Regions from separate parts of the Homo sapiens genome. Here region 2 is linked to region 1. The links come from fine-mapping of genetic effects on gene expression. A gene starts in region 1. The other region holds a variant in brackets. All regions are shown on one strand. Distances are between the middles of the regions. Region 1 holds the start of VAMP4 (vesicle associated membrane protein 4). Region 2 holds the start of MYOC (myocilin).

Region 1 (16,665 bases):
CAATAGAAGAAATGGCCAATGACCACATGAAATGTTCAAAACCAATTAATATTCAAGGAAATGCATTAGGTCATTTTTTAAATAAATATTTCTTGAGTAATATTCTAGCTAACAAGTAACAGACAAGCATTACATTTATAATATAATGTATTTGGTTTATGGCCGGGCATGGTGGCTCACGCCTGTAACCCTGGCACTTTGGGAAGATGAGGAGGGAGGATCACTTGAGCCCCGGAGTTCGAAACCAGCCTGGGCAATACGGTGAAACCCCATCTCTACAAAAAAAAAAAAAAAAAAAAAAAAAATTAGGCGTGGTGGTGTATGCCTGTAATACCAGCTACTCTGAAGGCTACTTGGGGGGATTGCTTGAGCCCAGGAGGAGGCTGCAGAACCCTGATCGTGCCACTGCATTCCAGCCTGGGTGACAAAGCCAGACCCTGTCTCAAAATAATAATGATAATAGTAATAGTAATAATTTATTTGGTTTAGAGGATAATGATACTAAAGATATGTTTACTATAATTGTACACTGAGAAACACACATGAAAACCAATGCTTTTTCATATATTAATTGAATAAACACAAGTGCTAGGGATACAGTGTCAAAAAAGAATAATAGGACACAATGAGATAATATTTCATACCCACTAGGCAGATAATATTAAGTGTTGGTGAGGATGTGGAGAAATTAGAATCATCATACATTGCCGGTGAGAATGTAAAAATTGTACAACCACTTTGGAAAACAGCTGGGCAGTTCTTCAGAAGGCTGAACAGAGAGTTACTACAATACTCAGCAATTCTACCTTTAGGTATACACCAAAGAGAAATAAAAACATGCTCAAACAAAAACTGGTATGCTAATGCTCATAGCAGTAGTATTTAAAATAGCCAAAAGTAGAAAAAAACCCAAACATCTATGAACTGATAAATGGGCAAACCAAATGTGTTATATCAATATAAGGGAATATTATTAGCAATAAAAAGGAATGAAGATCTCCCAGCACTTTGGGAGGCCGAGGTGGGTGAATCACCTGAGGTCAGGAGTTCGAGACTAGCCTGGCCAACATGGTGGAACCCCATCTCTACTAAAAATACAAAAATTAGCTGGGCGTGGTGGTGTACGCCTGTAATCCCAGCTACTTGGGAGGCTGAGGCACGAAAATCACTTGAACCCAGGAGGTGGAGGTTGCAGTGAGCCGAGATCGCACCATTGGACTCCAGCCTGGGCAACAGAGGGAGACTCCGTCTCAAAAAAAAAAAAAAAAAAAAATGAAGCACTGATATGCACTATAACGTTGAGGAATCTTAAAAACATTATGCTAAGTCAAAGAAGCCAGTCACAAAAGGCTATATGTTATATGATTCCATTTACAGAAAACGTCCAGAATAGACAAATCTATAGGAGTGCAGTTGCTTAGAGGCTGAGGGGATAAAGAAAATGGGAGATGACTGCAAAAGGGCACAGCATTTCTTTTTGGGCTAATGAAAATATCCTAAAATTGATTGTGGTGATTGTTGCACAACTCTGTGAATATAATAAAACTCACTGAATTGTACACTTTAAGTGGGTGAATTGTATGGTACGTGACTTTTATCTCAATAAAGCTATTACCAAAAAAGTATAATAGGAAAGAGGAACAAAACTTTTAAAAGATTTTAAAAGTAATTTATATATTATTCTAACCAATCAGTTATCAAACTTCATAATATAATAAACATCAAAAAGGAGTTCTCTTGAAACAGTCAATTTTATTCAGTTCTGGTGTCTAATATACTAATAATCAATGAAGAATATAAGGAGAAAGTGATACAATTACAGTCTCAGCAGTGGAATTTATTGAGACAATACATTTTAAATTTAAAAATGTATTCATAAAGCTTATTTATTTGTATTATTTTTAATTTAAGGTTTACTATTGTTTTTCTTGAAGTAATTTTTCCTGCCCTTGTTATTAGGGTGGGCTTTATGTACTATTTAATCTGATTTCCACACATATTATTAAACTGGTATTTAATATCTACAAATAATAATTTTGTCACTATTTTCTCAGGATTATGACCAACATGCCATGAAACTGTGATCCTAGTATATCACGCCTGGACTTGATTTTTAAAAAGCAATCATATTCAAGTGACTGTGTCCTTAACAGTGATTCCATTAAGTGAACAACAAATTTACGTTCAGCAGTGATTGTGAGAAAGAAACACAGGGGAACTTAGGAAATATAAATAGTTTCAGTTTAAAATCATGTAAAAATAAAACTATAAAATTAATGGGATTTGCATCAATTAAAAATTATTAAATAATATACTCTTGCATACTATACATTGAATTTGGCTACAACCTTCTCTGCTTTACATACATTTTTCAAAATTGACATAGATTGTATGAATTACAAACAAGTTCCGAGAGGTGATTTTACTACATACATTTCCATACTTCAGTCTTCATCTTACACAAAGGCAGATGTGACTTAGGGGCTCTCTGTCCAGGACTGAGGTATTTACCTGACATATCTCAGATATCAGTCAATCAACTGTCAGCATTTATTGATCATCTTCCAGGATATTAATGCTTTGCAAGCATCTCTGGGTAAGTGACTAAAGATTTCCTTGGGGCAATAGGAAAGAGGCTCAGATTCTTCTAACCGATGATTTAAAAAATATTTCAGCATGCTTTGTGCACGCTGATCACTGAATATTCATCAGGAGCTTTCAGTCAGCTTTTACTGGATGCATATCAAGTCTGTGTTGTTTTACACTGGGTTCCTTTATAGGTTCACAATTGGTATCATTTACTTTAACAAATTGACATTTATTCTCTGAATGGGTTTAGTATTTCGCCAAACCTTCTGCTTTGTAAAGACATGCTTTTTTTTTCTTTCTGAGATGGAATTTCACTCTGTCACCCAAGCTGGAGTGCAATGGCACAATCTCGGCTCACTGCAACCTCTGCCTCCCAGATTCAAGCAATTCTCCTGCCTCAGCCTCCCAGGTAGCTGGGATTACAGGTGTGCACCACCGCACCTGGCTAATTTTTGTACTTCTGCTAGAGATGGGGTTTCACTATGTTGGCCAGACTGGTCTTGAATTCCTGACCTCAAGTGATCTGCCCGCCTCGGCCTCCCAAAGTGCTGGGATTACAGGCGCGAGCCACCACGCCTGGCCAAGACATGCTTTTGATAGTAAATCTTCAGTGTATGGAATTCCAGCACAGGTATATCAAATTTTCTGAATCACTTTTTCTTGGAGGTTTATCTTGAAAGATATTACATTAAAGAAAGAGACCCTGGATTATCCCTGAGTGATTTCTCAATCCCTGATCATCCTCTGCCTTCTCTCGGCCAGAGCCTTCCGGGTTCACCCAGACTTGGTATATTTCAAGGCATTTCTCAATTCCTTGCATGGGGAACTAGCTCAAGCAGACACTAAGAGTTTCACCATGGCATGGAGGAAAAGATAGGTGACCAAAATGGTTGAAACTGCACCAAATGCTAGTAAGCAGTTGAAATTATGGCAAAGAAGGAGTAACTGGATTTGGCAACATGGAAATCATTGGTGACTCCTTAAAGTTTATTAGTAAAAGCTTGCTAGCAATTAATCTATTGGTGGATTCTATTTCCCCATTAAAAAACAAAACAAAACAAAACAAAACAAAACAAAACAAAACAAAACAGGCCGAGTGCAGTGTCAAATGTCTGTAATCCCAGCACTTTGGGAGGCCAAGGCAGGTGGATTACTTGAGCTCAGGAATTTGAGACCAGCCTGGGCAACACGGCAAAACCCCATCTTTACGAGAAAAACAAAAACTAGCTGGGCATGATATCATGCACCTGTAGTCTTTGCTACTCAGGAGGCTGGGGTGGGAGGATAGCTTGGGCCCAAAAGGTGGAGGCTGCAGTGAGCTGTGATTGCACCACTGCACTTCAGCCTCAATGACAGAGCGAGACCCTGGTCTCAAAAAATAAAAACAAACCATCAGAAACACACAAAACCGCAAAAGCTGTACAAAGGGTTAGAATAAGGGGAAGAAAATGTTTCCTGTGTTGTACTAAAAGAAACTTATGACTAAAAGTCATAAGATGGTGGACAGAGTGGATAATATGAAGTTCTGAGGTTGTCCAAAAAGAGCATGTAAAACAAAGCAGACTAAAAGCTTTGCAAGGGCACAGACTATGTCTTCCAATTTTTAGCCCAGTGCCTAGCACATAGGAGGTGGTCAATACATATTTGTTGAATGAATCAAGACAAGAAGGAAAGGAAGGAGGGCTTCAGAATGGTGCATTAAAAAAATAAGAACGTGAATTATTTCCCCCAATAAATATGTATTGAGTACTTATTCTAAAAGTAATCTGCCTACAACATTCATATAAAATGTTGTCTTTTAAATGCGGCATAATTTCTAGATTTATATATATTTGCATAGAATGTTCTGGAATAAACTAGAAATTGAAGCATTATATAAAAGATACTCTGGAACATAAGATAATTACAGGTCTGGGGACCTTTATTTGCAATTCCAAAATCTAAAAGCTTCTGAAAATCAAAAAGTTTTGGAGGAAAATTTGACCTGAACTGATGTTAGCTAGTTTATTTACACACTTTATTTACATAGTTAGTTAGATATAACTAAATATAGACTTCACTGAGAAATATTAATATTTTTGGAGGCACTGGTCCAGGCCCCAAAAATGCTGTTACATAATATGTTCTTAACTTTCTAAAATCTGAAAAATTCCAAATACATTCAAAGTTCTGAATAAGATATTGTGTATTTGTATAAAACTCCCTTTCAAAAACTAGAAAGAAGCTATGAGAATAATGATTTGATCAATAATGGAAGTAGAATTCAGTTGTCACCAATCTAAGTAACATGTTTTTAAATACATTTGCTATGAAGAAAACAATTAGGATTAGAATATAGTCATAAGCTTTTGATTTTTCTGTTGTTATTATTATTAGTTAATTAATTTTTGAGACAGGGTCTTGCTCTGTTGCTCAGGCTGGAGTGCAGATCACAGTTCACCACAGCCTTCATCTCCCAGGCTCAGGTGATCCTCCTGCCTTAGCCTCTTGAATAGCTGGAACCATAGGCATGTGCTACCATGCCCCATTAATTTTTTAAAAATTATTTATAGAGACAGGGTCTCCCTGGGTTGTCCAAGACAGTCTTGAACTTCTGGGCTCAAGCTATTCTGCTTCAGCGTCCCAAGTGCGGCGATTGCAGGCATGAGCAACCACGCCCGGATGGTTTTTCTTCTATTATTCACAAAGGGAATGAAAACATATTTTGAATCTTTTGTTTTTAAAGCTTAAGATTCCGAACTTACCCTTTCACTTTTCACAGAACCTGTGACATCATCATCATTGAGGTGGCGCTTAAACTTGGGAGGCATATTTTTTACTTGCAAAGTATCTTTTGCTTCTCAACAGGATAGTCACCACCTTAAAGAGAAAATAAATTTCATCAGATTTGAGACTTTGGGGCATAAGCTAATGTACTTAAAACAGTGTACATGAAACCCTGTATGACAGGGACTCCCTCATTTTTCTGACTTCAATTCCTGCCCTCTCACTTGTTCCACTCCAGTGACTGGGGCCTCCATGCTAGACCTCAACACCTAAGAAATAGTTAAAATTATGAGAAAATGGATGTAATTGCCCTAAGAGAACATGTGTAGGATATGAGTGATTTAAGATTTTTATAAAATGAAAGAGCAGAGAGTAGAGGGAGGACGTCTCACTGAGACATTAAATGCTTTACAATTTAAAGTTGGAGTCAGAAGACAGGAGAACATGCCTATTTCTCTCACTTTTAGTTGGTTGCTTAAGCAATGATTCAGTTTCCTCAGGTGTAAAATACTGATTTTCAGGCTTCTGCAGAGTTGGGACGGTCAAATTGGATAATACATGCAAAAATATTCTGCAAACTATAATGTCCCATTGGTACTCCATGAAAAGGGGTAAGTTTGGTAAGTACTGGTGTGATATCGTGATTTACAAAATATACTCATTTGGTCTTAATCCCCATTTCCTGACATATCCTTGGAATCGCTGCAGTGATGTGTCTTGTGTATGCTAATAAGATGACTGGTAGCTTAGCCCCCAGATAGATTCCAGATGGAGGCTGGTCACAGAAAAACCTAGGCATGATTAGAAGACTGGGACTTTACAGCCCCACCCCCTAGCTTCCTGGAAGGGGAGGAGGGCTCAAGGTTGAACTGATTTCTAATAGCCAATGATGTAATCAATCATGCCTACTAAGGAAGACTCCATAAAACCCAAAAAGGACAGGGTTCAGAGAGCTTCCCAAAAGCTGAACAAGTAGAGAGTTCCTGGACGGTGGCACACCTGGAGAGGGCACAGAAGCTCTGTACCCCTTGCCCTATGCACCTCTTCCATCTGGCTGTTGATCTCTATCCTTTATAATAAACCAGTAAACAAAGTGTTTCTCTTAATTCTGTAAGCCACTCTAGCAAATAAACTGAACACAAGGAAGGGATTGTGGGAACTCTGATTTATAGCCAGTCAGTTGGAAACACAGGTAAAACAACCTGGAACTTGTGATTGGCACCTGAAGTGGGGGGAATCTTGTAGGATTAAGCCCTCAACCTGCAGGATCTGATGCTATCTCTAGGTATACAGTATCAGAATTGAATTAGAGGACACCCAGCTGGAGAATCTGCTGCAGAATTTCCTCCTTGCTTGTGAGGAGAAATCTTTTGGGGGTCTGTGTTGAGAGAGAATAGGAGAAACTCAATTTTTTTCTATCAAAACAACTGGATTAAACAAAGCTAGTTTTCTTTGCTACAGAATGACTCACATCCTGTTATATGCTAATATGCATTGTGACTTTCCAGGAAAATGCTTGTGTATGCAACATACTAAAATTTTTTTTTGCGAAAAAGTTCTTCTATGCAAATAATGAATTTTCAGTATTTTTGACTAGATGGTAGATGAATACCCATCAATTCAGGATAGCTCAGAAATACTGAATGTTTTACTATGTGCTAGGCACGGTGCTCAGTGATACACATGCATTTTCTTTTACTCTTTATGATGCTTCTTTAAAGTAGGCACCAAGAAACTAGGAGAAAACTAAAGTTTAGTAACGATAACGTTAGTCACTACATTCATTGAAACAGCAGAGATACAGGCCTAAATTAATCAATGGCTGTGCATTATCAGTTTTAATCATTTGTTCAATTAGTTGCCCATCAGGTTTACAGAATTCTGTTCTAGAAAGACTCACTTCCTGCTAACAACCCAATAGTCCTGCTTCCTTTTCCATAAGAAGAAACACTTAGACCTTTAAATTAGGTATAGTTAGACATCAGTTTGTTTGTTAATGATATACACTTAAAAAAGAATAATCCCAGGATCTGGCTTCACGAACCAAATAAAAGTAATGTTTTAAGTCAGCTGCTTGTCAAAACCAAAGGACACACTTTTCTTTGATAAGAAATGCTTCCAAATCAGAAATTATTCACTTGTAACAAAAACCAAATTCTTGCTGCCTGAGTAACAGCTCTTGAGTTCTTGGTTCCACAATATTTCTGTCACATACATCTGGCCCTTTTATTCCTCATACTTTGATGTCAGAATACTTCATTCATGCAGAAATGTAACAGAATGCATGGAAAAACAGATGACAAGGCAAATTACTGAAGAACTTGTGCTTTTAACTATTATCTGTATTTAGATTTTAACCCCTGCAATGAGGCTGCCTCAACATCCCAAAGCAAACAACGGGCAGACTTATATAATGCCTTTATAAGACATACAGTAAAACTACAATCTTAAGGATGAGCAAACACCATATTCAGGTCTCTTAATCCCAAGAAACCATGTGCAACAAATAGCCCATCAGCAAAGCAGTAGGCAGATTAATTAGCTACCTTGATGAACTTTGATGTTATTTGCAACTGATTATTAGTAACTGATATGTGTATCAAACAACTAGTAGAAATAAATCATGCTCAGAAAGTAGACTAGGATATAGTCTGCCTAAGATTTCTCCTACAAAAAAAGACATGTGAATTCAGCTGTTTGTGACTAGGTATACATGTAAATAAGAGAGCCATCATGTACTTCCACATTGAGGATAGACCACCACTATACAATTCACTCAAATGAGTCACATCACCGTATGCTTCTTATACATCAGCATATACTTAAATGTCTATGTGTGCGTTTTTGTAAGTAGTACGTTATCTAGTCAATAGCTTTGAATCTGGGCAAAGGCTCTCCTTTTCCCAGCCTCCATTCTCTTTCTGATTCGTCTTCCTTGTCTGTCATCAGCCTTCTTGCTTGATGCAGTTTCACAGAAATAAAGTGACTTGGATGGACACAGACCGGAGATATTATTTGCAAAACCTGTCAAGTGTAACGATTCACCCCCACCTTCCGGTCATTATAAACACAGCAGGGTTGGCGCTCTTTCCCCCGGGCCCTTTAAATACACAATTTCAGGCAGCTCCGTTCACCCCCCACACCCAATCTGTCACACCAGGCCACGTCCCACGATATATCTGCTCCTAACGCTGGCCCTTCCTGCCCCATTGTACCCCCTGGAATTCCTCACTACATCCCACTCTTAACAAACCTTCCCCATCCATGGTACTGTTCTCTTCCCATCACCCCAGAGTACCCCTCAATTCCAATTCTTCTCTCCCTCAACTGCTCCTCGTCCGCATACCCCTGTCCTCGTCTTCCTTCCTCACGGCACCCCCGGCCCCAACCTTTTCCCACTCCGGGGTCCCTTCCTAGATCCCCGAGGCCCGCCGACCAGCCCGACTAGGACGTCGGGGGGCGGCAAGGCAGGGGCGTCTTCTTCGTTTCCTTCCTCCTCACACCAGCCCCTCCCGCTGCGAACAGGCCAGCGCCAGTACCTGAGGCTCCCGGGGAACTCCCGGCAGCTCTCCCGGGCTGGCGGTGCTGGGCGGGCGGGGGAAGGAGTAGGAAGCCGAGGTAAGAAGCTGGGAGGGGGAGACAGTTGGTGCGGACCCGGCGTCGGCCGCAGCGCCGCAGCAGCGCCTCCGCTCATCGAGCCGATCGGCGCTCGGCGGCCTGGCGCCAGGCGGAGGGGGCGGGTCCAGGGCACGGAGATAATCGAGGAAGTCGATCCGCCGAGCCCTATTCACCTAAAAGAGCCCGAACCCACACGCAGTTTAGATGCATCTCTCCAAATTTATGCTGTGCTTTAGGGGAGGAACAACCACTGGTTGTCCACGTTCCGGTCGTGATCCGGCGTGCGTGGAGGGCGATTAGGGGAGGAGTGGGAAACTTCCGAGAACCGCTCGGGACTGGGCGCCGCGCCGGAGTGCGTGGCTGGGGTGATGAGGCGTTAGAAAGAAGGTGGTGCTTGGTGGCACATCCGTCCCTCTGGCTGACTACGTTGAGTGGCAAGTGGAGAGTGGCTCGCAGCTCGAGGACCTGCTTCGGGTTCGTCTGGGGCCTTTTCTGAAGAAAGGAGATCTGTTTGATCCCCTGTTTACAGAATTAGAGCTAGACTTGGAAAGAGATGTTAAGGCCAGGCTCCTCCCTTTAGATAGGAGGAATATCTGGTTCAGAGAGGAGATTGACTTAAAGTTAACACGGCTAGTTTAGATAGATACGGGACGAGGGCTCGGTGTTCTTTTCCCGGTATCCCTTAGTTGTAACCTGAAAGCCTTCAGGAAATCGCCCTCGCCAGGCCATTCCGCCACTCTGCCCATTCCTTCCTCACTCCCTCCCCCTCCGCCCAATTTGGTATCATGTTTAGATCTCCACGCCCGCAGTAGCTGTCTACCAGAAACAATTCCTAATTTTGTTTTTCCGTTCTCTTATTTGTTTTATTATCCGTTCCTCCCACGCCCCAGCTGGATTATTTTACTCATTGAATCATATTCACTACACATCTTTTAAAATTAATACAGTATCTATGGGTCCTTTGTTGATACAGTATTTTAACTGTCTGAAATACTGTGCCAGGCACTTTCTAAAGACATAAAAATAAGAGGGGGTGTTCAAGAACAAGAGTAGACAAGAAAACAGCAGGAGGAAAGATCTGCGGACACTAAAGGAAAGGAAAGAATAGACACCCTCTTACCAAAAAGTTGTTCTTCTTTTGTTTGATGTTTATTTTTATGTAAAAATGTACTAACGAATTTGAAAGATGCCATGACTAAGGCAACGATGCTCCACTCTGATTCACTTGGAGTTGAATCACTTGGAAAGCTTTTAAAACTACGTAGGTGCCCACGTGCTACCTAGATTCTGATTTAAATGTTCTGAGATTTAGAAACAGCCGTTGAGTTGTCAGTTGAAGGTTCTGAAAGCTTAATGCTAAACTCAGTTGCCTGTGTTTATTCAGTCCAAGTTGCTGTCCAAGTCAGCAACTTGGACTGAAACGGCCCACTTAGAAGAGAAGCCTCTCATGGTTTGTATCCCTGTCTAGGTGTGATAGTGGGTCTACCCCCAGACTCCACAGGTAACCCTGACATTATTTTTTCTTCTACAGCTGATCTTTTTTTTTTTTTTGAGATGAAGTCTCACTTCTTCCCCCAGGCTGGAGTGCAGTGACACAATCATAGCGCACAGCAGCTCTGAACTCCTGAGCTAAAGTGATCTTCCTGCCTCTGCCTCCCAAGTAGCTGGGATTACAGGCATGAGCAGCTGTGCCCAGCACTTACAGTTGATTTTATGTCTGTATATTTGCATGTTATGGGCTATTTTCTGGCTTTGGTGCCTTAGCCAATTAGAGTTTAGCTAGTTATAGCCTCATCTCTTAGACAACTTAAGGTGTGGTCAGTGAGCTCTAACAGGCACGTCATTGCATAGCTTTTACAGATAATCCATTCTTTGGGTTTTTTTGTTTTTTAAACATAATTCTTTAGTCCTGCCAGTCATTTTGGAATGATCGCTTAGGAGAGGGGTAATGCAAGCCCCACCCTTAATCACCTGAACAAAGTCCCTTTGACTAACCCCAATATTTGTGAAACTTAGAAAATGTCATTTTACAGTTAACATGAATCAAATATACCAGTAAGCCTAAAAGATTATAATAGCACTGAGCTTAGAGTCAGAACTCCAAGCAACTTGAGTTACTTATTTCCTCCATTTTCTTTTTAGTGAGCTTCAGTTATTCAGATGTTAGTCCTCTAATTTTCTTTTCCCCTTTTTCAACATGACACCTTCATCCTTAAGAGGGCCTGCTGTCCTCCTAGCTAGAGAATCAGCGTTTTGCTGTCTTTCAGGACTAAATCTCTGGGTTTTTGATGGGATAGCAAAGGGAATCTCAGCATCTGATTCATTCTTAAACAGACTTTATACCATTCCGCCTGTATTTATAGCTCACATCATGCTCTCTTCAGCTTTACGTGGTGTTTCCAATTCCTGAGCCTTATACAGGGTTTCACTGTGTGTATCAGGTTGCTTCATGGCCTGCTTGGGATTCCTACTTTTCAAGTCTGCTAAGGCAATTGCATCTTGATTCATCTCCCTTCTAGCTTTCAATATTTTGTTGCTAAATGTTCAACATTACTTAAAATGTAAAAGTGAACAAGGAAATACCATTTTTCATCTATCAGTGACTGAGAAAGAAGGAGTTGAGCAGAAGATCTGCAATCCAGTCTCTCCCTTCGTAGGGAAATACTCTCAGGAAAGCAAGGTTAAAGCAAGCAAAAAAGCATGTGATTTTTATAAAATATAAAGTATATACTAATTACAGACCTCCTGGCAAACAAACTAATGGCATTTGCTAGCAAGAGAGTCCATATTTACGGAATTCCTCTAACAGGATGTCCCAGGGCTGGGATTGTTTATGGTAAACACATTAAGAATCGATGTGGTAATTCCAGCACTTTGGGAGGCTGAGGCAGGTGGATCACTTGAGGTCAGGAGTTACCAGCCTGGCCAACATGGCAAAACCCCGTCTCTACCAAAACTACAAAAATTAGCTGAGTGTGGTGGTGTACACTTGTAACACCAGCTACTCAGGAGGCTGAGGCAGAAGAATAGCTTGCACTGGAGATGCGGAGGTTGCAGTGAGCAGAGATCGCGCCACCGCCCTCCATCCTGGTCAACAGAATGAGACTCCCTCTCACAAAACAAAAAAGAATCAATGCGGATTTCAGGGGTATGATTAACTGGAAAATACCGCGGAAGTTATGTAACGTAGCATAAAATGGAAGTGTTTTGTAACTGATTTGGCTCCTTCTGTGTAAGTGGGGTGACTGTACACTTGATTTAGAAACCACATCTACTGTCCTGGGCCAGGATGCATCCAAAGCAAGAAGAAAGGACCTGGGGATTACTGGTATCCTTGAAACTATTAGTAAAGCTTGATACTGAGTAAAATCTCTGATTTGAGCCTGATTTGACAGTTTGATCTTTTGTGTTAGCTCAATAGCAAAAATAAAAAAAATTTGATACTACAATATTGGGTGTGTGTATGTGTGGTATGGGAGCAGCGTGGGAGGAACAAGCATTCTTAAACAGTAAGAGTATAAAAATTGGTGCATTTTTAAAAATTTCATGGTAATTATATGTATCAAAATTTTATATGAAGTTCTTTTTGATCTAATAATTTTACTTCTAAAATTTATCCCATGGGTATACAGGTTGTATATAAAAGTATTCTATAAAAATATCTGTTACAGGATTTTTGTAACAGAGTGAAAAAAAAAACTCTAAATGTTCAGCAATAGGAAATTGCTGAAATGAGTCATAGTCTAGCCATTCAATAGAATAGTATGCAGCCATTAAAATGAACTAGATAGATCTATATGTGCTGACATGGAATACCTCTATGATGCTATAAGGTGAGAAAAGTAAGGTGCAAAATAGTGTGTAGACTCTACTTCCATTTGAGCATCACACACACACACACACACACACACACACACACACCAGGAGGACTGTGAATCTGGCATGGAAAGTGTTATGGACTGAATTATGTCCCCTCAAAATTCATATGTTGAAGTCTTAACTTCCAGTGTGACTAGATTTGGAGATAGGGCCTTTAGGACAATAATTAAGGTTAAATGAAATCAAAAAGGCAAAACCCTAATCCTGTAGGGCTAGTGTCTGAGTGCATGGGCACAGAGAAGAGGCCATATGAGAACACAGAAGATGGCCATTTGCAGTCCAGAAAGAGAGGCCACACCATAAGCCAACCCTGATGACTCCTTGATCCTGGACTTTTAGCCTCTAGGACTGTGAGAAAATAAATTTCTGTAGTTAAGCCACCTAGTCCATGGTATTTCATTATAGCAGCCCTAGAAGACTAATACAGAAGGGAAACTTTCTTGATGTGTAGTGTTTTGTACTATTGGAATATCTTTACCATGTATATCAGTTTTTCAATTAAAACAATGGTAGAGGCACTCTCTTCCCCTAAAATTGGGACCACTGGACCAGTTAATTTAAAAAGTCAGTTACAGTGGTACATATTTAAAAATGGCAAATATATACTTTAGTCATTTTATTTTGACTCAAATGTATATGTTCACTCACCAGTCTTGGTAGTAGGCCCAAGACCTTTTATCTGAGCATGAATTTGCTGGTTGGAACACCTGCTTTGTCTTTGTTACAAGTTGCATTGTTTACAGTTTACAGTTTCATTTTCTTCAAAGTGGAATAAGAAGTTAAAGACACCTTTCAAGCAATTTGAATGCCCAGTCAGTCTAGATTTTTGTACAATTTTTTCTCCAAAGTTTTACAGGTTTGTCTTACCTGTGCCTAGTTCTATAGTAATTTTTGTTTGTTGTTCATGTTTATCAATTTAGTTTTTATAGAAAATAACTTTCTATTTGTATTTCATTAGTTTACATATTTAAATATATTCTATAAGTATAATAGGCATAAATACTTTGGAGTACAAATGCAAATTGACTCTTGTAAGCATGTAACTCAATTAGTTTGGAGAAGAAGTATACAGATATCATGTAGTTAACCATAAGCTTTTCATGCTTAGAGTGCCTTGGTGTTATATAAATATGATATTAGTTTATTTTAGTTTTGATTTTGAATGCTTTTAAATCCTCTATCCAGATTCATTAATAACGCTTTTCTAATGCTGACCTCAACTCCTAAATGGATTTCATGACAGTGTGAATAAAAACAAAATAGTTCAGCCCTCTTTTTGTCTCCAGGTAGATGAAGAAACAGAGTGCCAGAGAGTTTACGTGGTTTGTTAACATTTCACTAAGTTTGCTTTATTACTTCTCTTTAAATTTATATCTCCCCTCGGCATGCATTATTTGAAAATTAGTTATAGCTATCATGCCTCTTTACCCCTAAATACTTCATTAGATATCTCCTAAGAACAAGAACATTGTCTTCATAACTGTAATTCAGTTGTCAAATTCAGAAAATTTAACATTGATACAATATTATTTTCTATCAAAGCATCCATATCAAAGTTTGCCAGCCGTCTCAGTTATGTCCTTTGCAATGTGAGTATAGTCTACAGAGAAAATAGTAATGAGTAACAAAGCAAGAGGAATTTAGTTTTTAAAGATAAGTTCAACTATAGTTTAATTATTTTTAATATATATAATAATATGGGAAATGCCCTGATGCCTTCCTCATGAAACTTTAGATGTGACATTATAAGATGGTCTCAGGGAGGTGCTTTGTTTCTCTTCTAACTGTTCTTGTTTATTGAGGTAGTGACATGTTGCAAGAATTTTATCTTGGAGAAATTACCTCCCACAAAGATGGCAACATTAGAAGAACCTGCATAATAATATGCTCTAATTGTGTTACAAATTTATTTTACTACTCTGAAAGTTAAAAATGGTTACCATTTATTTTCTTGGTTTCATGCCTGTTTTCTTAAGAACTATGCTTAATGATTAGCATATGTTTCTGCACAAATCCTCTCTGATATCAAGTGTCATTTTCCTCATTTTATCATTTAGACCTCAAGGTTCTGAGATGACGTGTGATTTGTCCAAGGTTAGAGAATGGTACAACTGAGAACACTAGAAAATATCGCAGAGCAATAAGCTTAAATTGAGATAAATATTTTCTCTAAATGAATCACATGCTTTTCCCTTATAATAGAGATTAGGCGGCTGGGCGCGGTGGCTCGTGCCTGTAATCCCAGCACTTTGGGAGGCCGAGGCGGGCGGATTGCCTGAGGTCAGGAGTTTGAGACCAGCCTGGCTAACACAGTGAAACTCCATCTCTACTAAAAATATGAAAAAATTAGCCCGGCGTGGTGGCACACACCTGTAGTCCCAGCTACTCGGGAGGCTGAGGCAGGAGAATCGCTTCAACCTGAGAGGTAGAGGTTGCAGTAAGCCAAAATCGTGACACTGCACCTGGGCGACAGAGGGAGACTCCATCTTTAGACGGAGAATCCATCAAGCATAATGTCTTGTTATGATCGCACTTGATTCAAGAGGCTTTAGTCTGCTTAAGGTAAAATACAACTGTAATTTCTTGCTGAAGATGGTAATATTTATCTTGAGTGAAGACTGTACTTTCAGGGTACAACAAACTATAACATAGAACTGTGTTATAGTTCTATAACAAACTATAGAAATGATCTATAGTTTGTTAATCTTGGGTGCTATATCAAAGTGAATCAATTTGTCCATCAGATATGTGTGACAGGTATTCTGTTAAAGTCTGGGGATACAAAAATGGCAAACAGTGTTACTGTCCTCTTAAAAACTTACAATCTTGCACAGAAAAACAAGACTAGGCAACTACAGCCATGTGCCACAGAAGGACGTTTCAGTCAACGAAGGACTGCATATATATAACATTATAATTGATCTGAAAAATTCCACCTAACGATGTTGTTGCTGTTGTGCAATGGATTACTCATGAGTTTGTGGTGATGTTGGTGTGAACAAACCTGCACTGCCAATCTTACAGAAGTGTAGCATATACAATTATGTACAGTCTGTGATACTTGATCATAAATGACTCTTACCAGTTTATTTATTATACTATATATCATTATTTTAGAGTATATTCCTTCTACTTATACAAAAAGTTTACTGTCAAACAGCCTCAGGCAGGTCCTTTGGGAAGTATTCCAGAAGAAAACGTTGTTAAATTAGTGTGTGTTAAAATAGTGTGTGTTATTGTTCCTGAAGACCTTCCAGTGGGACAAGATGTGGAGGAAAACAGCAATATTGGTGATCCTGACCCTGTGTAGACCTAGACTAATGGGTGTGACTGTGCATTAGTTTTTAACAAAAAAGTTTAGAAAGTAAAAATATATACAATAAAAAATTTTTAAAATAGTAAAAAATGGTCCAGGTGTGGTGGCTCATGCCTGTAATCACAGCACTTTGGGAGGCCGAGGCAGGTGGATTGCTTGAGCCCAGGAGTTTGAGACTAGCCTGGGGAACACAGTGAGACCCCATCTCTGCAAAAAATTTAAAAAGTAGCCAGGCATGGTGGCACACACCTGTAGTTCCAGCTACTCAGGAGGCTGAGGTAGGAGGATTGCTTGATCCTGGGAGGTCGAGTCTGCAGTGGGCCCTGATTGTGCTGCTGCCCTCTAGCCTGGTGGCAGAGCAAGACTCTGCCTCAAAAAAAAAAAAAAAAAAAAAAAAAAGTAAAAGCTTATAGAGTGAAAATAGAAAATATTTTTGTACAGCTATACAATGTATTTGTGTTTTAAGCTAAGTGTTATTATGAGTCAAAAAGTTTAAA
Region 2 (14,028 bases), 95 kb before region 1:
GAGTTCGAGACCAGCCTGGCCAACATGGTGAAACCCTGTCTTTGCTAAAAACACAAAAGAATTAGCTGGATGTGGTGGCAGGTGCCTATAATCCCAGCTTCTTGGGAGACTGAGGCAGGAGAATTGCTTGAACCAAGGAGGGGGAGATTGCTGTGAGCCGAGACTACACTATTGTACTCCAGCTTGGGCAACAAGAAAGAAACTCTGTCTGAAAACTAACTAACTAAATAAATAGGCTCCCAAAGATATGGTGTTTGAGATTTGATTTTAGATAAGGACTGGGGATGGGTTGGGGGTCAGAGAAGGGAAGATAAAACATGATTGGACTGTGCTGATAACAGTTGGGCCTGAGTGATGGCTACATTGGAGTTCATTGTAGTCTCTCTACTTTTGTGAATATTTGAACAATTCCATAATTAAAAACCTCATAAATAATAAATTGCAGGGCAATGTGCCTACCTTAGAGTAGGGTATTCAAAATCAAATAATATTTTAATTCCACTAGAAGGGCTGGTTTGTGAATAGGTGAGTCGTAATTTCAGGAATATGGAGACAGTCCTCAGCATCTTCTTAGATGTCTGAATTTCAATAATTAAAAATTCATGAAAAATTAGCTGGGCATGGTGGTAAGCATCTGCAGTCCTAGGTACTTGGGAGGCTGATGTGGGAGGATTGCTTGAGCCCAGAAGTTCAAGGCTGCAGTGAGCTATGATCCTGCCACTGCACTCCAGCTTGGGTAACAGAGCAAGGCCCGGTCTCAAGGTCTCAAAAAAAAAAAAAAAGAGACCGGGCACAGTGGCTCACACTGAAATCCCAGCACTTTGGGAGGCCGAGGCAGGCGGATCACTTAAGGCCAGGAGTTCAAGACTAGCCTGGCCAGCGTGGTGAAATTCCATCTTTACTAGAAATACAAGAATTAGCAGGGTGTGGTGGCACATGCCTGTAGTTCCAGATACTCAGGAGGTTGAGGATCACTTGAACCCAGGAGGCAAAGGTTGCAGGGAGCCGGGATTGTGCAACTGTACTCCAGTCTGGGCAACAGAGCAAGACTCTGTCTCAAGAAAAAAAAAAAAAAAAAAAAAAAAAAAGAAGTGTGGCTCATGTCTGTAATCCCAGCACTTTGGGAGGCCAAGACAGGAGGAGTACTTGAGCCCAGGTGTTCAAGACCAGCTTGGGCAACATAGGGAGACTCCTGTTAAAAAAAAAAAAAAGATAAAAGTTTACTGCATGACTTAAGGTTTTTTCCCTTGTTATATGCAAATATTCTTGTAAGAAGTAACATATTAAGCTTTATACTTTCAGTAGAAATATTCTGTCTGATTCCTTTCTGAGACCAGTTTTGCATAATGGAGAGGGAGTGTGTGCAGAGTTCCTATAGGAGTTTGGGGTGGGGGTGGTGAGCCATACAGAAGGGAAGCGGGTGGGCAGCATTGGTTAGACAGTAAGTGATCATGGTGTGCTACATGTCTCTACTCTTGCTTAGGATTATGATCTTACAGCAGTCTTGAATACAAGGATGAGGCAATAGTCACAAGGAACAGGCTTGGCTATTTTAAAATGCAGTTTGGCCAGGCCCAGTGGCTCATACCTGTAATCCCAGCACTTTGGGAAGCCAAGGTAGACAGATCACTGGAGCCCAGGAGTTCAAGACAAACCTGGGCAACATGGTGAAATCCCATCTCTACAAAAACTACAAAAAGTTAGCCTGGGTGGTGATGTGTACCTGCAGTCCCAGCTACTTGGGAGGCTGAGGTGGGAGGATCACTTGAGACCGGGAGGTCAAGGCTGTGGTGAGCAGTGATCGTACCTCTGCACTCCAGCCCTGGCGTAGAGTGAGACCCTGTCCTCCCCTCCAACCTCCCAAAAAACCCATCACATACACATAAAAACAAATAAAATGCAGGTTTGATGATTATTCAGGTGTGGCAAGGCCAACATCCCAGGAGGCAATTGTCACTGAAAAGCAAGTTAAAGCAAAATTATGGAGACAGTAAAAAGATCAGCAGTTGTTGGGTGAGGAAGGGATGACTAGGTGAGGCACAGACGATTTTTAGGGCAATGAATACTGTGTATGATACTATAATGGTGGACACATGTCACTATGCATTTGTCTAAACCCATAGAAGGCGCAACACCAAAAATGAACCCTAATTTAAACCGTGGACCTTGGGTGTTGTGCGTGCTGATGCAGGTTCATCAGTTGTAACAACTGCTGTGGCGGGAGATGATGATAATCGGGGAGGCTGTGCATGTGTGGGGGCCAGTAGTATCTGGGAACTGTTTGTACTTTTCTCTCAATTTGGCTGTGAACATAAAACTGCTCTAAAAAAAAATTATCTTTACAAGTTGTTGTACTCACAGAGCCCAAGAGGAAGGGGGCACACTAAGCCCAGGAGGCCACCTGGGGAAGCACCAGGGTTGCTCCAGAAGAGGGCACCAGGGGAAAATGTGGGAAAGCGCCTTTATTCTTTCCATGGGAAGGAAAGAAAGGGGAGGCAGGGTAAGCAGGTTTAGGATTGGGGAGTTTGAATAATTTCAGCAGGATCTGGGGTCACAGGAGTTATCTCTAATTGTCTGGTACCAGGCCCTGGGTGATTAGGTCAGGGGGACAGTGGCCTTGAGTTTGAGCCAGATGGAGGTGGTCACAGGGTGTGGGCTCTGGATTGGTTGGTTTGCATATGAAAGCTGTCCTCCCAGGTGAGTCCTTTGCTAACCGTAGGAACTGGCTACCCCTGGGAGGGGCAGTCCCTCTCACGTTTGCAAGGCCCAGACAGCAAAGCATCAGAATAAAAAGACATGCTTAATACACTGGGCTTTTCTCTTGCTGAACCTCTGAGTCACTTCTCTGCCCTTTGAGCAACTTGTTCCCCGCTCAGGATTCTCAGGTGTTCAGGACAGTGGGAGGAAAGTCAGTGCATCCCCTGAGGCCGGAGCGCCTACACAGCCGAGAGGGTCGGGAAGACATGTTCTGCCTTTGATCATTTGTTTGCTCAGCTCTCCTAAATTTAGATTTCAGGCAGAGAGGATCACCACAGAAGTCTTAATCCTCTGGTTCTACCACATTTCATCAAAGCCACACATTATTTTACATTTTCACATCTCCAGAGTCAGGGTACCTTGTTTGAGTTGCTGGGGTTCAGCTTCAACAAATTATAGTACTGGAAAAAATTTCTCCCTGGAAGGAGGTGAAGAAAACATTCAGCTAGCTCTCAGGTGCAGGCTGGGCCAGACAGCCATGCTGCCCACAGTGAGCCAGCTCAGTAGCTGCTGCAGCTGCCTGCCCCTGATCCCAGCTACCCTTCTCTCCTCTCCACCCCTGCCTCTGTGTGGCTGCAGTTGTTAGCCTCCCTAAAAGTGTTAATGCCCTGGAGGTGGGTGGGTCCTCCATCCCTGGGATATCCCTCAGTCTAGAGTGCACCATGTAAGTAGTTAAAACCCATAAGCTGGCCAGGCGCAGTGGCTCATGCCTGTAAACCCAGCACTTTGGGAGGCCGAGGTGGCAGGATTGCATGAGGCCAAGAGTTTGGGACCAGGCTGGGCAACATAGCGAGACCCCATCTTTACAAAAAATTAAAGAGTTAGCTGGGTGTGGTGGTGCAGTCTGTGGTCTCAGCTACTCGGGAGGCTGAGGCAGGAAGATGACTCTTGAGTCCAAGAGGGCAAGGCTGCAGTGAGCCATGATCATGCCACTGCACTCCAGTCTGGGTGACAGAGTGAGACCCTGTCTTAAAAAAAAAAAAAATTAAAAAAAGAAAGACTCATAAGCCAAAATGTATATGTAACTGAGGACATCCTCAATGTGCATTCCAAACTCCAGGGGCAATTGGGAGTACCCCCCGGGACATGGCAGGCCTTCATTATTCCTAGCCTCAAATCCACAGAGCTATTTATCCATCCTTTTAGTCACATCATTGGAGCACCTATTGAGTGCAAGGCTGTGCTAGGTGCTCAAGAAAAAAAGGTGTCTAAGACACAAGTTTGTCTAATAGGCTAGTCTATGTTTAAAAAAAAAAAAAAAAAGACACAATCAGTCCATGCCCTTAAGGAAATCATAATCTGGCAAAGTCCTCATACCCGAGAAGGAAAATGGGTTTATTCCAGGCTGCTGCGGAAACCAGTTTCTTGGACAATCTGAATGGCTCCTGGAGAGTCCTGGAAACTTTTATTTCATTCCCTGCGTCTCCTTCTCCCTATCTGAGGTTGTGCAGGGGTGAGGAAACCCCTTTGTTCTTCATTCTAAAGGTTGCATTGGCCTAGGAGGGTATCCAGGGCAGGGACTGATTCACTAGGTCAAATGGAGTTTCCTTAGATCGACCTGAGACCAGTACCAGCTGCTTCCCTTCTCCCCCTGTGCAGGCAACACACACCTCCGGCAGGGACTTGGTGCTGCCTATGGGGGAGAGGGACAGGGTGCCCGAGGTTCCCTGTTCTTCTGTGCTGCCAGGGAGAGGTAAGAGAGAGTGACCGCCTTCCTGTACACAGGTGGCAGAACCATCTGTAACCTTCCTCTCTGATGCTGCCTCGCCGATTGCCATGCCTTCTCTCTTAGGCCCAGAACACACACCCAGGCTGTTAGGAGCAGCCCACCGCTCCCTGGCCCTGCCAGCCTCCTGCAATGTGCAGAGGCTCATTCGATGTGGCAAAGTCTTGCCAGGACAATTTTTCAAAATCAGGGCATTAAGCAAGTTCCTTGAATTGAGCTGGTTTCCTTTCATCTGTACCTCTTCTTGGATCACTGCAGACTCTGCCTCAGGACAACTCAAATTTCTTTTCTTTCATTGTCTCAACTCTCAGAATATAAGAGTTGCTGGGCATGGTGGCTCACGCCTGTAATTCCAGCACTTTGGGAGGCTGAGGTGGGTGGATCATGAGGTCAGGAGTTCGAGACCAGCCTGACCAACATGCTGAAACCCTGTCTCTACTAAAAATACAAAAATTAGCCGGGCATAGTGGCACATGCCTGTAATCTCAGCAACTAGGGAGGCTAAGTCAGGAGAATCGTTTGAACCTGGGAGGCAAAGGTTGCAGTGAGCTGAGATTGTGCCATTGGACTCCAGCCTGGGTGACAGAGAGACTCTGTCTCAAAAAAAAAAAAAAAAAAAAAAAAAGGAGTTGGTTTCAGGCAATGTGAGGAGAGAGAAATACTGCATGCCATCTGTACACAAAGTCTGGAGGACTGCCCCAACCTTGTCCCTACACTTCAGCTATGCCATCCACAGTTGCCATGGGAGGGTCCCTTAATAAATGTGTCAATACTAAAATTTCTCTGGAATGTTTCAAAATCACTAACATTTCATTCTGAATGTGGAAGAAAACCAAAAAGAGATTATGAAAATATTAAGGGCTATATTGTGACAGATCGTTAACATTTTTAGGGCTTTTTTTTTTAGGTTTTTAAAAAAATATTAAATTCAGGCGAGCCATCCCTCCCCTGCATCTGGCCCCTTTACACATACAAAATGATGTATTTTATGCTGGTTATTTAATTTAACAACTTACCGAGAAAAGATGTATACTAAGAAAAGTAGGGGTACCTACCTACCAGTCAGTGGGGAGAAAATTAAGAAAGAAATGCCCCTTTTGCTATAGAGGGAAGGAAGAAAGTGAAACCCAAAAAAGTCAGGCATTTTCACAGATGACTTCCTTGTGGATAGCTAAAGTATGTACTGGCTTTGCAACTCTAAAAAACAGCTTTTTTTTTTTTTTTTTTTGTGAAACAAGATGGTTTGTCGGCATTTATAGCTCTTTGCCCATTTCAAGTAATTTTTATGTAATTTTTAAATGTGATCTGGTGCCTTCAAAGTTTCAGAGAAATAGAGAAAGGCTTTAGGACTGCAGATAGCGCCTGATAAAGTTGAACTATCGCTACTACTTATTAAGTGTCTCTTATGAGCCAGTACTGTGCTGGGTGCTTGCTACTCACTACTTTCAAATAATGGTCCTGAAAGTGAACATTAATATCCCCTTTTGCAAATGAGGAAACCGAGGTTCAGAGAGGTTAAGTAACATGCCCAAGGTCACACAGCTAAGTGGTATCGCTGGGACTTGAACCCATGTCTTCCGAGGCCATGGCAGCTGCGAACTCTTCCATCCTGTGCTGAGGAGGTGTGTCAGTTATAAACGCATTGCCTCTCAGAGCTGAATGCACCCTCCCATGTATGCTGTCTGAAGAACAAGAGCTTTGAAGTGAGCGCGATGTTGAACTATCTCAGTAGAGGGCGCTGGAGGGACATCGTGGGAGGAAAAAGGTCTGCAGTTTTCCTGTCCTGCGTCCATAGGTGGTATGACTGTGAGGACATTTGTTGGAGTCCTACCCCAGCCACGGACCCAGAGCGAAGTTCTTCTGTGACCTCACAGCCACAGCCTGGCCATAACCTTTCCACAGCCCTCCCAACAAGGAACCCAGAGTCCCTGCACACGGACCTCAGTGCTCTGGAGGCCTCCTGCCTGTGCCTGCCCTGACTCCCACCATGCCCTTGCCACACGTTGCAGGTTGCCCTCCTCACCTGCACTGGGAGGCGGCCTATTGCAGCTGCAGACCAGCTGAGGCCTGCACACCTTAGCCACCTTCTCTGCAAGCTGATGTGCTGAACCTCACCTTCCCCTTCCAAGCTTGTCCGGCACCCTCCCTCAGCCCTAGGTGCCTATGGAGTTCACGTCTATCTATAGTTGCTCTTTCATCACGGTTAGTAATTCTTTAAAGTAAACTTCCCCAGCTTAACCCACTGTGTGATTTCTATCTCCCGACTGGACCCAGATGGCTACTGGAGGCTTCAGAAGAGTCTCAAAGATGCTGCTCAGCACTTTGTGGGGTGACCCACTCCTGGGGCTGAGCTCAGGTCCCAGTGGGTTGCCTTGTAAACTCTCAGCTCCTGGGCTGTGCACTCAATCCTCTTATCAGTTCTTCTACCCTCACTGGCAAAGAAGAGGCAGCAAAAGTGCCTGGCTGGTGCCAAGTTCCCTGCTGAATCCCACCATGGCCCTTACGGCTCTGAGCAAGGAGCCCTTCAGATTGTGCCTTGCAGGAACCACTCCTTATGTGCATTAGCTGGAATAAACATGAACTGCAATAAAACAAAATGTCAGGGAATGGCTTCCAGGATGACGGCAAGGCCAGTTCCCATTTGGCAGGGGCGATGGTTAAGTTATGAGCCTGCTGGCTTCTTCTAGGTCATGTCAGCCAGGAGCATCTGGCAATGGTCAGACTCCAGGAATAGAGCCATCTGGCATGCGGGTGGAAGCCCAGAATAGAGGATGCAAAACCCAAAGGCAGGGAAACAATCTCGTAAAGGGGCCTGGACCTAAGCCGGAAGTCATAGCTCCTAGTTCAGCTCTGCCATGTCCCAGCTGTGTGACTTTGGGTAAATGACTCCACCTCTCTGAGCCCCAGTATGCTGAGCTGAATTGTTTGGATGATTACATAAGTAACTATAAATGAAATGGCCCTCAATAAAGATGTGTCAACACTAAAATTTCTCTGGAATGTTTTAAAATCACTAACATTTCATTGTGAATGTGGAGGAAAACCAAAAAGAGACTGTGAAAATATTAAGGGCTGTACTGTGTCAGATAGTTAGCATTTTTGGGGCTTTTATTTTTTAAGGTTTTTTTTTTTGTTTTTTTTTTTTTGAGACAGGGTCTCGCTCTGTCACCCAGGCTGGAGTACAGTGGCATGATCTCAGCTCATTGCAACCTCTGCCTCCTGGGTTCAAGTGATTCTTCTGCCTCAGCCTCCTGAGTAGCTGGGACTACAGGTGCCTGCCACCACGCCTGGCTAATTTTTGTATTTTTAGTAGAGACAGGGTTTTACCATATTGGCCAGGCTGGTCACGAACTCCTGACCTCGTGATCCGCCTGCCTCAGCCTCCCAAAGTGCTGGGATTACAGGCGTGAGCCACCACGCCCAGCTGTTTTTTTTCTAGGTTTTTTAAAATGTTAAATTCAGTCCTTCTGTGGTTTAAAGGTTCATGTCTATTACAAAATTCTGGAAATGTTCTGTGTTCTCTGCCGTCGCTTCTTTATAGACTTGGCATTTTAGAGACCTCAACCCGGAAACTGAATTTATTAACTCGTTTGCCTGTAGACATAGGCATTGTAATAATTTTCATAGATATTTTCTATCACTGGAAAGTTCAGTCCATATTACATAAATGAAAGGAATGAAGTAAAACAAGCTATGCCTAATTATCTACAGGTTGTCAGAAACATCTTAGGAAAGTGAAGACTAGCTAATAGACTATTGTCCTGAGTACTGCTCTAACTTGTACTGTCTCTAGAATCAACGCATGTTATTAAAATGTTATGCACATGTTGACATATTGATTATTGAATGATGCTTTAAAACAATAGTGGAACCCTGGCCAGGTGCAGTGGCTCATGCCTGTAATCCCAGCACTTTGGGAGGCTGAGGCGGGTGGATCACGAGGTCGGGAGTTCAAGACCAGCCTGGCCAACATGGTGAAACCCCATCTCCACTAAAAATACAAAAATTAGCCGGGCATGGTGGCGTGTGCCTGTAATCCCAGCTACTTGGGAGGCTGAGGCAGGAGAATTGCTTGAATCCAGGAGGTGGAGGTTGCAGTGAGCCAAGACCACGCCACTGCACTCCAGCCTGGTGATAGAGCGAGACTCCATCTTCAAAAAACAAAACAAAACAAAAAACAAAAACAATAGTGGAACTCAAGTAAAATAAGCCTTTCTAGTTATATTTTATTCACTGGGTGGCCACTGCTCAGCGCTGCACTGGGTGCTTCCCTGTGTGACTGCTAATTTGCATGATGACTCCCATGAGGGATTCTCATCCCCATCCTATTCTAGGTGAGGAAAGGGAATCTGCAGCACTTGTGTTGAACACCTCAGGTTTCTCCCCTCACCCTCCCCTCACATCCTGCCCACTTTTTTGCAGTCATTGCTGAGGCAACCTGCCTCTTGCAGTTATCACCTGCGGGGACCTCGCCTCAGCCACCGTGGCCCAGCTTCTCTGACTTTCTGCATAGAAAGTCTACAAGAACAGGCCAGGCGCCGTGGCTCATGCCTGTAATCCCAGCACTTTGGGAGGTCAAGATGGGTGGATACTTGAGGTCAGGAGTTCAAGACCAGCCTGGCCAACATGGTGAAACCCTGTCTGTACTGGAAAAAAAAAAAAATACAAAAGTTAGCTGGGCGTGGTAGTGTGCACCTGTAATCCCAGCTACTCGGGAGGCTGAGGCAGGAGAATTGCTTGAACCCAGGAGGCGGAGGTTGCAGTGAGCCAAGATCGTGCCACCGCACTCCAGCCTGGGGGACAGAGAAAGACTCCATCTTAAAAAAAAAAAAAAAATCAGTCTGCAAGAACAAACCTCGTCCCCACATCTGAGTATCAGGGAAGCGCAATATACTCCATGGGATAGCCCTTGGCCAAGAGGGTATCAGATCCATGCGTAAACCTCCCCTCTTCTGTTGCAGTCTACACAGCCCCTCTGAAGGGCTTGATGGGATTGAGCCTCCATTGCCCACTGTGGTGACTAGCTGGAGAAGGCCCCCATTTTGTGGCTTTCCTGCCTTCCCTGTCTCACTTTCCCCTGTCTCAACTTCTCTTCTCTAGGATCATGGTCCATATAAACCAACTGCACACAAGCCCTCTTCCAGGCTCTGTTCAACAGGAGACCAGTCCAAAGCAGGGGCTAAATAACAAACAAAGCAGTCCTTCTCTTGTGACAGTAATAACCAACTCTAATTTATCTTCTAGTAAATTATATATGTATTTTATTATATATATAATAAATTTATATATATAATTATATATATTTATATGTATTATATGTAATATATATATTTTTTTGAGATGGAGTCTCGCTCTGTCACCCAGGCTGGAGTGCAGTAGCGTGATCTTGGCTCACTGCAACGTCTGCCTCCCAGGTTCAAGCGATTCTCCTGCCTCAGCCTCTGGAGTAACTGGATTACAGGTGCCCGCCACCACACCCGGCTAATTTTTGTATTTTTAGTAGAGACAAGTTTTCACCACAGTGGCCAGGCTGGTCTTAAACTCCTGACCTCAAGTGATCTGTCCACCTCGGCCTCCCAAAGTGCTAAGGTTACAGGTGTGAGCCACCACACTTGGCTAATTGTATTTTTTTTCTACTTTTCAAAAACTATTATATATACATAAAATTTATATATGTATATATATGAAAATTTATATAAGCCCAGAGAAGAAAAAGTTATATATAACTTTGTAGTAATAGTTATGTAGTAAAATATGTCATATTATGTGTATGTATAAACAAGTGATTTCTATGATTATAAGGAATTTTTTTCTACATAACAACTATTAATACATGATCAAGAAAGTGGTGGTAACAATTTGAGTTGCAGGTGGAATACAGAAAGGCTGCCTTCTCAGGCCTTACCTTTGTCCACTCAGCCTCACTAAGCTTCTCTACCCAAACCTTCACACCTAGTTCTTGCCACTCCTGCAAAAAAGCATACCTAGACTTATATTCCAGCCTCCAGAATGCCCCCTTTTCCCTAGATCTGGCCTTGAAACAGATCTTTTGTTCCAAGCATTCCTGTACCTTTCTGTCTTTTACCTTTAGGGTCTATAAACCAGAGGTCAGCTGAAGGTCTTGAAAGTCAATGAACCTCATGGCCATGTACAGGGAGGGCTCACACCTGTAATCCCAGTGCTTTGGAAGGCCGAGGTCGGCAGATCACCTGAGGTCAGGAGTTCGAGACTAGCCTGACCAACATGGTGAAACCCTGTCTCTACTAAAAATACAAAATTAGCCGGGCATGGTGGCACATGCCTATAATCCCAGCTACTCAGGAGGCTGAGGTAGGAGAATTGCTTGAACCCGGGAGGCAGAGGTTTCAGTGAGCCAAGATCGTGCCATTACACTCTAGCCTGGGCAACAAGAGTGAAACTCTGTCTCAAAAAAAAAGAAA[G/A]AAAGTCACTGAACTTCAGAGGAAGAGGCCAGAATTCGAGCTTTGCCACTAACTGGTAGATGGCCATGGACAAGCTGAATAACCTCTCTGGGCCTCAGTTTCCATATCTGCAAAAATCAGCCAGCGGTACCGGATGCTCATTAGGTCCCTTTCCAGTTCCACATTCTTGTACTAATGTAATTTCCTGCTCATGAAAAACATCTACTACTAGAAAAGAACTTCCATGTTTGGTGTTCAATATAATGGGATGTTGCCCTTATTTCAAAAGTGGAGTAGCTGGAAAGATCAAGAAAAAATATAAAATTAGGAAACACATCTAATAAATCCCCAAAGACTTGTTAAATGACCACAAAAGAAAAAAAAAGGCAAAACATTGCCACTATTTTTGTACACACACACACACACCACCCACACCCACATACACACATGCAGGAGTTTTTATTGAGAATGTAACTTCATTCAACAGTCTGAAATAAGTAATGCCTCATCACACTTCTGGTAATGATGATTCTTTCAATTGTCTCCACAGATTCAAGTCTCAAGCTCTACCACTGACCAGCTGGGCAACCTTGGCCCCTTAGCATCTTAGGACTTCACTTTCCTTGGTTGTAAAATTCAGAATTGGATCTCTTCTAATTCTAACAATCTAAACATTTTTTAAAAATCCTTTACATCTTATAGGTATTTCATGTGAACCCCACAAAAATTATTCACAGCAGGAATTTTCTTTGTTATGTTATGGACAAGAAATGAAGATGCAGAGGGTTCAATAACTTGCCCAAGGTCATCCCCAGGCTCTGGCTCTTAGGTTTTCTAACCCCATAGCTATGAAGAGCTTGCCTTTCACGTAGAAGGCTCTTTTTAGGAAATATTTTCTCATAATTTTAAAGCTTTTCAAGCCTATAGAAAAACTGAAAGAATAGTACAATAAGCTCCCCATATACTTAGATTCACCAGTTTGTAATTCACCAGTTATTAATATTTTGCCACAGTTGTTTTACCTTTCTTTCTCTCATTATCTATATATTTGCAGTCTTTCTTCAACCATTTGAGAGCAAATTGCAGACATCCTGACGCCTCACCCTGGGTACTTAAGCATGTATCTCCATAGAACAAAGATTTTATCCTTCGCAACCACAGTATCATTATCTCACCAAGAAACTGAACATTAATACAGTAACATAATAATGAGCAGTCAAATTGCCTCAGTTATCCCAAACCTGTTCCTCATAGCCTTTTTCCCCCTTGGATGAAGACACCAATCAAGACTCATGCACTACATTTGGTTAACACATTTCTTTAGTCTCTTTAATATAGAACAAGCCCTTCCCCACCCCTTTTTTCTTTCTTCCTTGGCACTGACATCTTTGACCAGTCCAAACTAATTGTCCAACAACTGGATTTGCTTGCTTATTTCCTCATGATTAGAACACTTCCTCAACAGGGAATATTTGGGAGCCCACTTTCACAAAAAGTGACACAAATACCATCTTCCCAGCTAATAAGAAGACCTCCCCCAACACCTCACCCCCGCACCCCCCCCACACACACACAGACTCACCTTTAGGCAAGAAGGGACCAGGATGAACAGAAGAGCCTCTCAGAAAAAGCCATCTCAAGAATTTGTCTGATGACTTAAAAGCAGAGGTTCTCAGATTGGACTGAGTAAGAAAACTTTCAGAACAACATATTAAGAAAACTGACAGAGAGGTGCCATCTCTTTATTTTGCCAGGGAAGAACATTTAAAAATAAACAAAAACTTACCACTTATTATCATTTCCCAAATCTATTGTAATTTCATAAATAAAGGTCATTTTAACATCAAAAGGTACAAATAACAATCTGAGCAAAGGTTCAAAAAAGGATAGTTTTTCAAAAGGGACAATTGACAACTTTCTACTGCTCATATGCAGACACATCTCACCCGGTCCTTTTATTTCTCCTTTTGCTATGGACTGTGAAAACTGACATGGAGGGGCACAAGAACTCTGAACCACTAATCTAAATGAAGCTCTCAGGAGCTAAATTACTAGTAATACTTGAAGGTGATCGCTGTGCTTTCCTTAATTCATCTGTCTTGTGCTAGCTGTGCAGTCTCTAGGAGAAAGGGCAGGCAGGGAGGCCTGGAGCGCCTGTAGCAGGTCACTACGAGCCATATCACCTGCTGAACTCAGAGTCCCCCCACTCTGCATTCTTACCTTCTCTGGAGCCTGGTGGCACAGCCCGAGCAGTGTCTCGGGTCTGGGGACACTGGCCCCTTCTCAGCCTTGCTACCTCCTGGCTGCTGCTTTCCAACCTCCTGGCCAGATTCTCATTTTCTTGCCTTAGTCGCTTCTTCTCTTCCTCCAGAACTGACTTGTCTCGGAGGAGGTTGCTGTAGGCAGTCTCCAACTCTCTGGTTTGGGTTTCCAGCTGGTCCCGCTCCCGCCTCAGGGTGCCCAGCTCCCTCTGCAGCCCCTCCTGGGTCTCCTGGGGCCTGGCAGCCTGGTCCAAGGTCAATTGGTGGAGGAGGCTCTCCAGGGAGCTGAGTCGAGCTTTGGTGGCCTCCAGGTCTAAGCGTTGGGTGCTGCTGTCTCTCTGTAAGTTATGGATGACTGACATGGCCTGGCTCTGCTCTGGGCAGCTGGATTCATTGGGACTGGCCACACTGAAGGTATACTGGCATCGGCCACTCTGGTCATTGGCCTTCCTGAGCTGAGCTGTCCTGGCCCCCACATCCCACACCAGGCAGGCCAGAAGCAGCAGCTGGACAGCTGGCATCTCAGGCCCAAAGCTGCAGCAACGTGCACAGAAGAACCTCATTGCAGAGGCTTGGTGAGGCTTCCTCTGGAAAGCTCTGCTGTGCTGAGAGGTGCCTGGATGGGTGGCCTTGCTGGCTCATGCCCGAGCTCCAGAGAGGTTTATATATACTGGGGAGCCAGCCCTTCATGGGGGAAGACAGAGGTGGCCACGTGAGGCTGGGTGGGGCTGTGCACAGGGGGGTTGCCTTCACGCTGCCAGCAAGATTCTTAGAAAATAACCTTCCAGAAGTCTGTTTGGAGTTTCTTTTTAAAAAGAACATCCCAATTTATGCACCCATACCCCAATAATAGTTCCTATATCTC

The links.
Region 2: its variant is fine-mapped to the expression of VAMP4 in lung (TOPMed, PIP 0.91).

What each region holds. Positions count from the first base shown.
Region 1 is chr1:171,733,016-171,749,680 of GRCh38, forward strand. It overlaps VAMP4 (vesicle associated membrane protein 4), which reads right to left and starts at 9,050. Exons shown (of 8, transcript NM_003762.5): 1 at 8,895-9,050; 2 at 5,334-5,448. The coding sequence starts at 5,399.
Region 2 is chr1:171,638,886-171,652,913 of GRCh38, forward strand. MYOC (myocilin) reads right to left here and starts at 13,803. Exons shown (of 3, transcript NM_000261.2): 1 at 13,123-13,803. The coding sequence starts at 13,726. RefSeq lists enhancers at 5,971-6,477, 6,478-6,984. The variant G/A (reference allele first, on the strand shown) is at 10,924.